Homo sapiens: one gene and its partners. The protein of the gene in region 1 purifies or fractionates together with the protein of each later gene. This does not show direct contact. Each region holds a gene or a part of one and is shown on either strand. Other genes may lie near its edges. The genes, in order: CDKL4, FKBP5 and MYO18A.

Region 1 (3,751 bases):
TGAGGACTGTTCTCTGACCAGAGCTGTAGCCGCTACTTTCTGAGCTGCCTTTTGTGGCAGTGTCTTTGGGGCTACCTGACGACTTTACTAAGGAGAATTGCCCATTACCTCATCTCTGCAAGTCGGGCTGCTTTCCAATTGTTCCTCCTCTGTAATGCATTTGTACAGCTCCTGATCGTTCAGGGTCCTGTGATGATTCTGGGATTGGCTTCCACCCACTTGGAGGCAGGTGCCTTGGGTCCAGGCAGTCCACACCTGTGGCATAGGGCAGGGCTGGGCAGTGAGGGTGCACCTAGCTCTCTGTCATCTGTCTATCACATATCACACATGACTCATACATAGTACAAGGAGTCAAATTGAGGTCTTTGTCACAGTGGGTCACATTTGGATAGAAAAATTAATTTATGCAATTGTCTAGTGCTGCATTAGTTTCCTGGGGCTGCCATGATACATTACCACAATCTGAGTGGCTGAAAACAACAGAAATCTATTTTCTCACAATTCTGGAGGCCAGACATCTGCCATCAAGGTTTCAGCAGGGCCACATTCCCTCTAAAGGCTCTAGGAGAGGCCCCTTCCATGTCTCTATCCTAGCTTCTTTTTTTGTATATGTGTGAGTTAGAGTCTTACTCTGTCGCCCAGGCTGGAGTGCAGTGGCATGATCACGGCTCACTGCAGCCTCCACAGGTTCAAGTGATTCTCCTGCCTCAGCTTCTCAAGTAGCTAGGACGACAAGCATGTGCCACCATGCCTGGCTAATTTTCGTATTTTTAGTAGAGACAGGGTTTTGCCATGTTGCCCAGGCTGGTCTCAAACTCCTGACCTCTAATGATCTGCTTGCCTTGGCTTCCCAAAGTGCTGGGATGAGAGGCATGAGCCACCATGCCCGGCCTCTAGCCCAGCTTCTGATGGATGTGGGAAAAGTTGGCATTCCTGTGCTTGCAACTGCATCACTCCAATCTCTGCCTCCAGTATCGCTTGGCATTCTCCATGTCTCTGCATCCCTGTAAGGATTCAAGTCATTGGATTTAGAGTCCACCCTAATCTAATATGACCTCATCTTGACTAATTAATTACATCTGCAAAAACCTTATTTCCAAATAAGATCACATTCACAGGTAGCAAGAATTAGGACTTCAACCTATCTTTGGAGGGGACACAATTCAGTGCACAACAACCACCATGCTGATGGTAAAGTGGAAACCAACAATGCGGTTTAGACTTAAAGTCACACTCCAGAAATTCTCATTCCCCCCATCCCTATCACACCACCCGCCACCCCAGTTTGGAGTAGTAAGAGATGTTAATTATCTAAAGTGCTCTTGAATGTCAAATTTACTATCTCAATGCACAGTAACTGTTTCCTCAATTAGTGCCTCAATGCATTAACCCTTAAGAGTATCATGGCCTCTGATGGTTATTGCAGCCTGAATGCCTGATGTGTTCTTGGGAGCAGTTCACATGTTGGGAGAATTGACTTACCTGATCTGATTGATGCATTTGCAGTTCCAGGAGATGCCTACACCGATTATGTAGCTACGAGATGGTACCGAGCTCCTGAACTTCTTGTGGGAGATACTCAGTATGGTTCTTCAGTCGATATATGGGCTATTGGTTGTGTTTTTGCAGAGCTCCTGACAGGCCAGCCACTGTGGCCTGGAAAATCAGATGTGGACCAACTTTATCTGATAATCAGAACACTAGGTATGAATTGCATTTTATGGCAACAGAGTTGCTGAATTGTTATAGCATTCATATGTTACTATAATAAAAAATAAATAAATAAAAATAAAAAACAAGAGTTTTATTGCTTCTTCAAAGTGTCACTCAGGATGGTTGTTCTCAGTTCTGGGTTGTAGCCAAAGCCCAATCCTTTTCTAAACATGCAGAACCGTAACTCCTCTCAGGGAGCTCTCAGATCCCTTTGCAGGAAAAGTCAATTAGCCATGGAATAAACTATACATTTACTTTCCATATCAGACTAAGATAGGGATAAGGATATGAGTCAGCTGCCTAGAGCTTAATCTAAGATATTTGATCAAATGCAATTTCTGTCCACTGTAAAAGAGGTTCCCCCCTTTACTCTAGAGCAGGAATCAGCAAATTTGTTTCTATAAAAAGCTATATGGTAAATATTTTAGGTTATGCAGGCTGTACAGCCTCTGTTGCAGTTCCCCAACTCTGCTATTGTAGTGCAAAAGCAGCAATACGCAGCATGTCAACAAATGAGCATAGCTGTGTTCCAATAGAACTTTATTTATGGACACAGAAATTTTAATTTATTGTAGTTTTCACGTGCAACAATATCAAAAAATCTTTTTTGACTTTTAAAAATCTGCTTAAAAATGTAAAACCAATTCTGAGGTCACAAGCTGTACAGAAACAGGCAGTAGGCCAGATTTGGCCCACACTCCTGCCCGAGATCCTAAGAGTCTGATTTTACTTCCTGATTAGGGGTGGCTGCTGAAGTTTAGAATAATGTTAACACATCTTCTTTGTATAGTACTTAAGAATTTACAAATTACTTTCATACGCATCATCTTTTTCAGTCTTAAGAAAAACCTGTTAAGGAAGTTATAATGTTTTTAATTGTGCCTATGTTATAAACGAGGAAACAGAGGCTTAGGGAGCTTCCATGATTGGCCTGAAGTCATATAGCCAGGTAAGTGCAGAATAGGAATGAGACTGCAAGGGTTTCTTTCGTGAGCTTTCATTATGTGTCAGCATAACCCGAAAAGTGAGCCACAGCTTCATGCCAACAGCATGGATGCAAAGAAAGTGACACCTCTACACACAAAATGAGAATTTGTTAATTTCTTCCCACAGGCTCTCCTGGCAGCATGGCTGCTGGACAGTTCCCTGGTCAGTTCCAACATATTATGGAAAATTCTGCAGCATGAAAAATGTGGGGTAGATTACCACTGCAGGCCACACTTTGTTTGTCTGATTCATTCCCTAAAAAGATTCTGGAAATTTACATTACATACCTGAGTTTAAATCCTGGATCTGTTAAGTTACTGTGTGATCTTGGACAAGTTATTAAATTTCTCTAAGCCTCATTTTCCTCATTGGCACAATGGGGATTTAAAATAGCAACTACTCCAGGCTGGGCAACATAGGCAGACCCCATATCTGCAAAAAATTTTTAAAAATTAGCTGGACATGATGGCGCATGCTTGTAGTTCCAGCTACTCGGGAGGCTAAGGTGGAAGGATTGCTTGAGACTGGGAGATCGAGGCTGAAGTGAGCCATGATCATGCCACTGCACTCCAGTTTTGGCAACAGAGAGAGACCCTGTCTGAAAAAATAATAACAACTATTGTTGTGAGATTATGAGATGAAGTCTCATAAAATCTCATTTATGAGATTAAATGAGATAATGTGTGTAAAGACCATAGTACCATTCTCTCACCTTGTCTTTTTTTTTTTTTTTTTTTTTTTTTTTTTTGAGACGGACTGTCACTCTGTTGCCAGGCTGGAGTGCAGTGGTGTGATCTTGGCTCACTGCAACCTCCGCCTCCCAAATTCAAGCGATTCTCCTGCCTCAGCCTCCTAAGTAGCTGGGACTATAGGTGCGCACCACCACACTCAGCTAATTTTTTGTATTTTTAGTAGAGACGGGGTTTCACCATGTTGGCCAGGATGGTCTCGATTTCTTGACTTCGTGATCCACCTCCCTCTGCCTCCCAAAGTGCTGGGATTACAGGCGTGAGCCACCGCACCCAGCCTTCACCTTTTGATGGAGGCTGAA
Region 2 (3,751 bases), on another chromosome or scaffold:
CTGCCTCCCGGGTTCAAGCGATTCTCCTGCCTCAGCCTCCTGAGTAGCTGACACTACAGGCCTGCGCCACCATGTCCGGCTAATTTTTGTATTTTTAGTAGAGACGGGGTTTTGCCATGTTGGCCAGGCTGGTCTCGAACTCCTGACCTCAGGTGATCCACCCGCCTCAGCCTCCCAAAGTGCTGGTATTACAGGCGTGAGCCATCGCGCCTAGCCTAGTATTGCTTTATTTAACAGTAATATGCTTGCTGTACCCGGCATGAAGAATTCCTCTAAAGACCATTAATTAAAATAAGTTTTCATAATTCCTAAAGAATAATCTATATTATACATATTGGCACACTAAATTTTGTAATTCATGTTTAACAAATATCTGCATTTTATAATTCTGAAACTATTTGAACTTTACAACTTAGCTGATTAGTAGATTTTGTTTTTTAAGTATTTTATATTTCTAAATTTTTCTGCAGTACATTTTAGTGCATTTTAAAATTCTGACATCATATCCCCAAAAGTATAAAGAAAATTAAATCTACATTCAGTAGCGACTGGGTGGTGGTGGTATGTATGTCACATAACTATTGATTTAAAACAATAACCACTTAAGTGTAATTTAATTTGCAAATGAGATGTTTATTTACTATGTAAAAGACAGTACTGCCAAATGAGACTGGCTAAAATAATTTACAGTGGGGCCATATGTACTAGCAGGTTACTAACAGATTAATAAGGATATTTTAACAATATTTAGAACACTAAAATTCCACTACTCAAAATAATTTGTACTTCTTATAGTAGTTTGAGAACCTACATTTTATGCTTAATTTAGTATTTACTTCTAGTCTTTTTTTTTTTGAGTCGGGGTCTTGCTTTATTGCCCAGGCTGGAGTGCTGTGGTGTCATCATGGCTCACTGCAGACTTCCCAGGCTCAAGAGATCCTCCTGCCCAACCACCTGGTCTCAAGTGATCCTCCCACCTCAGCCTCCCAAGTAGCTGGGGTTACAGGCACACACCACCACACCTGGCTAATTTTTAAAACTTTTAATTTTTAGTAGAGATAAGGTCTCACTATGTTGCCCAGGCTGGTGTCCAACTCCTGAGCTCAAGTGATCCTCCTGCTTTGGCCTCCCAAAGTGCTGGGATTATAAGTGCGAGCCACAGTGCCAGGCCGACTTATAGCCTCTTGGAAAACATTTGGTTAATGAAAGTGAAGGTCCACCAGAGGGAGTGTGGGGTCTATATATTTGTTGTATTTGTTTTTTACCCTTGGTCTGGAATCAAAACATTTAAAAAATAAGAATAAGATTTTATTTTAGTTCTCTAAAACAATCAGTCAAAAGATATTGAAAATTGTGATTGTAGTTGTTTGGAGTTGCTGTCATTTTTGTTATCAAAATCAAGGCTTAATCAAGGCTGTTTTTCTTCTTAGAAAAAGGTGGCGAGGTGCAGTGACTCACGCCTGTAATGCCAGCACTTTGGGAGGCCAAGGCACGTGGATTGCTTGAGCCCAGGAATTTGAGACCAGCCTGGGAAACATGGTGAAACCTCCTCTCTACAAAAGTACAAAAGTTAGCCAGGTGTGGTGGAGTACACCTGTAGTCCCAGCTACTTGGGAGGCTGAGGTGGGAGGATCACTTGAGCCTGGGAGGTTGAGGCTGCAGTGAGCGGTGATTAAGCCATTGTACTCCAGCCTGGACAACAGAGCGAGACCCTGCCTTAAAAAAAAAAAAAAAGATACAATTACTGGAAAAATGAAAATGATGTATTTTCAAAGTGAAATAATGGGTTTTTAAGTAAACAGTCACACATCTGTGAAAGCTAAGGAATGTCCAAATTCTTTATTTTATTATTATTATTTTTTGAGACAGGGTCTTGCTCTGTTGCTCAGGCTGGAGTGCAGCGGTACAGTCTCCGCTCACTGCAACCTCCATTGGTTCAAGCGATTCTTCCTGCCTCAGCCTCCTGAGTAGCTGGGATTACAGGTACACACCACCACGCCCAGCTAATTTTTGTATTTTTGGTAGAGACGAGGTTTTGCCATGTTGGCCAGGGCCAGGCTGGTCTTAAACTCCTGATCTTAGGTGATCCGCCTGCCTCGACCTCCCAAAGTGCTGGGATTACAGGTGTGAGCCACCATGCCCAGCCTAGGAATGTCCAAATTCTGATAATGTTTTATAAGATTAAAAATATAGGCCAGGCCAGGAGGTCAGGCGTTGGAGACCAGCCTGGCCAACATGGCAAAACCCCATCTCTACTAAAAAAAAAAAAAAAAAAAAAAAAAATTAGCCAGTCATGGCAGTGCATGCCCTTAGTCCCAACTACTCAAGAGGCTGAGGCAAGCAAATTACTTGAACCTGGGAGGTGGAGGTTGGAATGAGCTGAGATTGCACCACTACACTCCAGCCTGGGCAACACAGTGAAACTCCATCTCAATAAAAAAAAAAGTATATATATATACCAGGCATGATGTCTCACACCTGTAATGTCAACACCTCAACACTTTGGGAAGCCAAGGCAGGAGGGTTGCTTGAGCCCAGGAGTTAGAGACCAGCCTGGGCAACATAGTAAGACCCCATTTCTACAAAAAATATAAAGTTCTCCAGGTGTGGTAGCTTGTATCTGTGATCCCAGCACTTTGGAAGGGTGAAGCAAGAGAATCACTTGAGCCCAGGAGTTCAGTGCTGCAGTGAGCCACCATACTCCAGCCTGGGGGACAGAGCAAGACCCAGTCTCAAATACACACACACACACACACACACACACACACACACACACACACACACACACACACACATATACGTATATATATACACACACACTTTTTTTTTTAAAGAAAGAGCTTGGGATATATATTTCTATACTTTTTTTAAGAAAAAGATTGGAAGAGACATATATATACACACAGACACATACATACATTTTAAAGAGATTGACGTATGTTTTTAACCTTTTTTTAAAAAAGAAATGGGATATATATATATATACTTTTTTTTCTTTTTTTTTTTTTTTAAAAGAGATTGTTTCTTGCTCTGTCACCGAGGCTGAAGTGTGGTGGCTAACTGCAGCCTCGACACAAACTCCTGGGCTCAAGCAATCCTCTTGTCTCAGCCTCCCAAAGTGCTGGGATCCCAGGCCCAAGCCACCATGCCTGGCTTAAAAATGTAGTACATTTGAATTGTATCCTTTTGAAATTGTTCGTTTTTTGGAAAGAAGAATAAGAGATGAAGAAAAATCAGACTGGAAGAGGGTTGTTTTTTCCCTTTTGTAGTTGCAAATCCTAAGTGGGCAGTGGTAAATTTCTAGAATCATTTGTAGCATTCTGTTTTAAACTTGGCAATTTAAAGATGTTATAAATGAGGAGTCCCCAGAAAATGGTCATTTCATTATCAAAAGCAGGGTTGCAAATTTCAGATTGATCTTTTCAAAAGTTAGATTTGTACTTGTTCTCAGTGTTCCTATCTCTGGAAACTAAAGAACCTCCTCCATTGTTAGCTGAAAATTGCACAGTGAATTTGAAAGTCAAGATGTCCCAGTCATGGACATAATGCTGCGATAGGTTACTTTTTGGAATGGAGAAAACATCTTAGAGATTGAGTCTGCATCAGAATATATTCTGAATGAGCATGGAATGTTCTTTACCCATGTTAGATATTAATTAATTAAGTTTTTCCATGTTTAACTTTTTTAAAAAAGCAAGACAATAAAAACAGTCTTGTAATCTGAACACATATTTTGGGTTTTGTTGCTAGC
Region 3 (3,751 bases), on another chromosome or scaffold:
TACCCTGCAGACTCCTGGTCCCACCCCCTGCCCTGGCTCTCTGCCCTTCCCCTGTGGCACCCCACTGGGCTCCTGTCCACTCTCACAGTTGACCTTGGGAAGAGGAGTCATTTCAAGAGATGGGGGACAGGACCTCCCCACAACCTTTGATGGAGTCCAGGACTTAGTGTCTTCATTTCCATGCATGGCCTTGGCCTTGGAATCCCTGGGCACTACAGGAGGGAAAATCCAGAAAGATGTGGACCTTGGGGGTGAGGGGTGTCTTAATGGGATCAGCTAAGAGCCAACCCCTTCTCTCCCTTGCTCTCCTGCCCAAGGTGATGCACATGTTCAAGGGTTGTCGGCGGGAGGACATGGCACCCCACATCTATGCAGTGGCCCAGACCGCATACAGGGCGATGCTGATGAGCCGTCAGGATCAGTCAATCATCCTCCTGGGCAGTAGTGGCAGTGGCAAGACCACCAGCTGCCAGCATCTGGTGCAGTACCTGGCCACCATCGCGGGCATCAGCGGGAACAAGGTGTTTTCTGGTGAGGCAGGGACAAGGGAGAAAACTGAAAGTGGGGTGAGGGGAGGGGAGTGAGGAGAGAGCACCCTCTTAAGTGCCAGCTCTTTTTCTCCCTGGCCTTTCCATCCCCCCGAAACCCCTCTGTCCACGGGCAGTTCTGGTCTGAATGGCCCCAAGCCTTCATACCTCTGGGGTAGCTCCTAGCTGGGGGATAAGCTGCCCCTGGCTTTCCTGATATCCCCTTGGGCCTGTATTCTGCAGTGGAGAAGTGGCAGGCTCTGTACACCCTCCTGGAAGCCTTTGGGAACAGCCCCACCATCATTAATGGCAATGCCACCCGCTTCTCCCAGATCCTCTCCCTGGACTTTGACCAAGCTGGCCAGGTGGCCTCAGCCTCCATTCAGGTGAGAGTGCTGCCCAGGACTCGGGGTAGTAGGACACAGGCCACATGATTTCATGACCTAGACATCAGGCTCTCTCCCATGCCTCATTTTCCTGGGATTCTACCCTAACAAAATTGACCCAGGCATGGGCAGGGTTGGCCTGCACTATCCAGAGGCATCACCATTCTGCCCTCAGGGCCTCCTGCCCTGGATGGGGCCAGTCCAGCTTTCTGCCCAGTTCCCTTCACTCTCCCAACCCTGGGGTTGTCCTAACTCTACTGCTGGGCCTCAGCCTTACTTCCCACTTTCTGAGATTCATGCTCGGGGCTTCTCTCGGGCCGATTTCACCTAGCAGAGGACTGGCTTGTCAGTAAAGTAAGGCCCAGCCAAGGCTGATTCCCTCCCATGCTAAATACCTCACCACAAGCTCCCATTTCCAGAAGGCAGGCACCTGGGGTCTGGGCAGAGCAGCAGGGCCCCTTTGGGAGCTGGGCCTGTCTTCTTCCACCTCATTCTGGTTTCTGTCCCCCATTTGATCCTAGAGGGATCTGGTATCTGATTGAGCACCTTGGGAATAAGATGCACCTGCTTAATTGAGCCAGATGTGGTAGTGCACGCCTGTGGTCCCAGCTACTTGGGAGGCTGAAATGGGAGGGTCACTTGAACCTGGGAGGTTAAGGCTGCAGCGAGCTGTGATTGCGCCACTGCACTCCAGCCTGGGCAACAGAGCGAGACCCTATCTTAAAAAAAAAAGACTTAAAAAACAAGATGCAGGTTGGGTGCGGTGGCTCACGCCTGTAATCCCAGCACTTCGGGAGGCTGAGGTGGGTGGATCACCTGAGGTCAGGAGCTCAAGAACAGCCTGGCCAACATGGCAAAACCCCATCTCTACTAAAAACACAAAAATCAGCCGGGTATGGTGGTGCATGCCTGTAATCCCAGCTACTCAGGAGGCCAAGGCAGGAGAATTGCTTAAACCCAGGAGGCAGAAGTTGCAGTGAGCCAAGATCGCTCCACTGCACTCCAGCCTGAGTGACAGAGTGAGACTCCATCTCAAATCTTAAAAAAAAAAAAAAAAAAAAATGCAGCTGCTTGTTCCCCAGGGCCTAGAGGACCATGTGTTTGATTCCTTCTTATGTGGGGTGGGAGAAACTTGATCTGGCACTACCCTCCTTACCCACACGTCCATGCTGTGTCACAGACAATGCTTCTGGAGAAGCTGCGTGTGGCTCGGCGCCCAGCCAGTGAAGCCACATTCAACGTCTTCTACTACCTGCTGGCCTGTGGGGATGGCACCCTCAGGTGAGATGGGTCAGAGGGTACACAAGGGTTCTCTGAACTCCAGCCCACTGACTGGGCTCCTGGACCTTGATTGCATCCAGAATTAAAGCCACTTGATCGCATCCTGCACTGTTTGGTCAGTGCATGTCTGCTATGTGCTAGGCTCTGAGCTAGGCCCCAGGGACAGTGAGATGGATGAGACATAGTCCCTGCCTATCAAGAACTCCCTGGTCCTGGGTACTGGGGCCTGGCTGTATTGGAGGGGAACAGCCAGCCCTTCAGTGTTGCCAGGGCCTAGCTAGGATCTCCATTACCCATGAAGCCAGTTCTGGAAAGCAAAGCACACTGAGGTACCAGTGGTTGGGGACTTGCCTACTGTCGCATGACTGGTAGGGGGCTGAACTGGTATTTGAATCCACACTGGGGCCAAAAGCCCATGCCTCTTCCAGTGCCCTCCAGACTAGCCCTTCCTGCCCCACGTTGGCTGCCTCTGCCACGCTCTTCCCTTCAGACATTCAGATTTGCCGCGTGTGTTCACTAAAAAGAGATAAATGATGAGGCTGAGCCAGCATCCCCAGGCCATTGTCCTCTTTAGCCCTTCTTGTAACTGAGGGCATCGTCTCTGCCTTGGCGGGACTCACCCTTCGGGCAGGTTCCCTGCTCCCTTCCGGGGGCCAGGTTGCATCCTCTCACCAGGGCATGTCTGGTGGCTTGTCCTCAGGAGAATGGTACTCTAACCAGGCATCCAGGCCAGTTAGGAAAGCAGTGACAGCTGGCCCGCCAGTTGGGGATGATGGGATGATGGGCAGACAAAACTTGGAGTCTGGAAGCTGAGTCTGTCTGTCTCCACCCTGGGCGGAAATGGCCTTGGCATGGGGACCAAGTGCCGTGCTGATGCCTTATTTGTACCCCTAGGACAGAGCTCCACCTCAACCACTTGGCAGAGAACAATGTGTTTGGGATTGTGCCACTGGCCAAGGTGAGGGGTCTGTGGGGTCTGGGTTGCCAGCCCTGGGCCTTGGGGGTAGGAGAAGCCTCCATGGGTCCTGTGGGAATAGTGGGAGCCCAGCTCCAGCTGCTGGCTCTACCCAAGCCTTGCCCTGAGGGCCCAGCCTCATGGGGGTGTGCTGGGAGGGACAGCCCTTTGAGGTCATCTATCTCCACAGCCTGAGGAAAAGCAGAAGGCAGCTCAGCAGTTTAGTAAGCTGCAGGCGGCCATGAAGGTGCTGGGCATCTCCCCCGATGAACAGAAGGCCTGCTGGTTCATTCTGGCTGCCATCTACCACCTGGGGGCTGCGGGAGCCACCAAAGGTAACCTGCAGTGGGTCCCAGTAGGCTGGCCTGTCCCCTGGGTGACCTCACAGGGACCCTGCCCACTCCCAGTTTATTCTTGCCCAGCACAGACTTAGCCGTTCTGAGACAACCCTCTTTTGCTTGTGCCTCTTCTCAGCCCCCCACTTCAGAGCAGAAGGCCCGGGAAGCATCTTTGGCAGTGACGACCCGAGGCCTGGACTTAGCTGGCTGTGCTGGGGGGCACCATGAGGAAGCATGGAGGGCTGGGGGTTCAGAGGCTGAGGG

The links.
Region 2: the proteins of CDKL4 (region 1) and FKBP5 purify together in Homo sapiens (affinity purification with mass spectrometry; 3 studies listed by BioGRID and IntAct, with this or other methods). This does not show direct contact.
Region 3: the proteins of CDKL4 (region 1) and MYO18A purify together in Homo sapiens (affinity purification with mass spectrometry; 3 studies listed by BioGRID and IntAct, with this or other methods). This does not show direct contact.

What each region holds. Positions count from the first base shown.
Region 1 is NC_000002.12:39,188,258-39,192,008, reverse strand, and holds part of CDKL4 (cyclin-dependent kinase-like 4), read left to right. Parts: intron 1-1,506; coding exon 1,507-1,704; intron 1,705-2,549; exon of another isoform or gene 2,550-2,662; intron 2,663-3,751.
Region 2 is NC_000006.12:35,682,165-35,685,915, reverse strand, and holds part of FKBP5 (peptidyl-prolyl cis-trans isomerase FKBP5), read left to right. Parts: intron 1-3,751. UniProt on the Homo sapiens protein: Immunophilin protein with PPIase and co-chaperone activities. Component of unligated steroid receptors heterocomplexes through interaction with heat-shock protein 90 (HSP90).
Region 3 is NC_000017.11:29,117,778-29,121,528, reverse strand, and holds part of MYO18A (unconventional myosin-XVIIIa), read left to right. Parts: intron 1-317; coding exon 318-531; intron 532-770; coding exon 771-913; intron 914-2,093; coding exon 2,094-2,194; intron 2,195-3,088; coding exon 3,089-3,152; intron 3,153-3,339; coding exon 3,340-3,484; intron 3,485-3,751.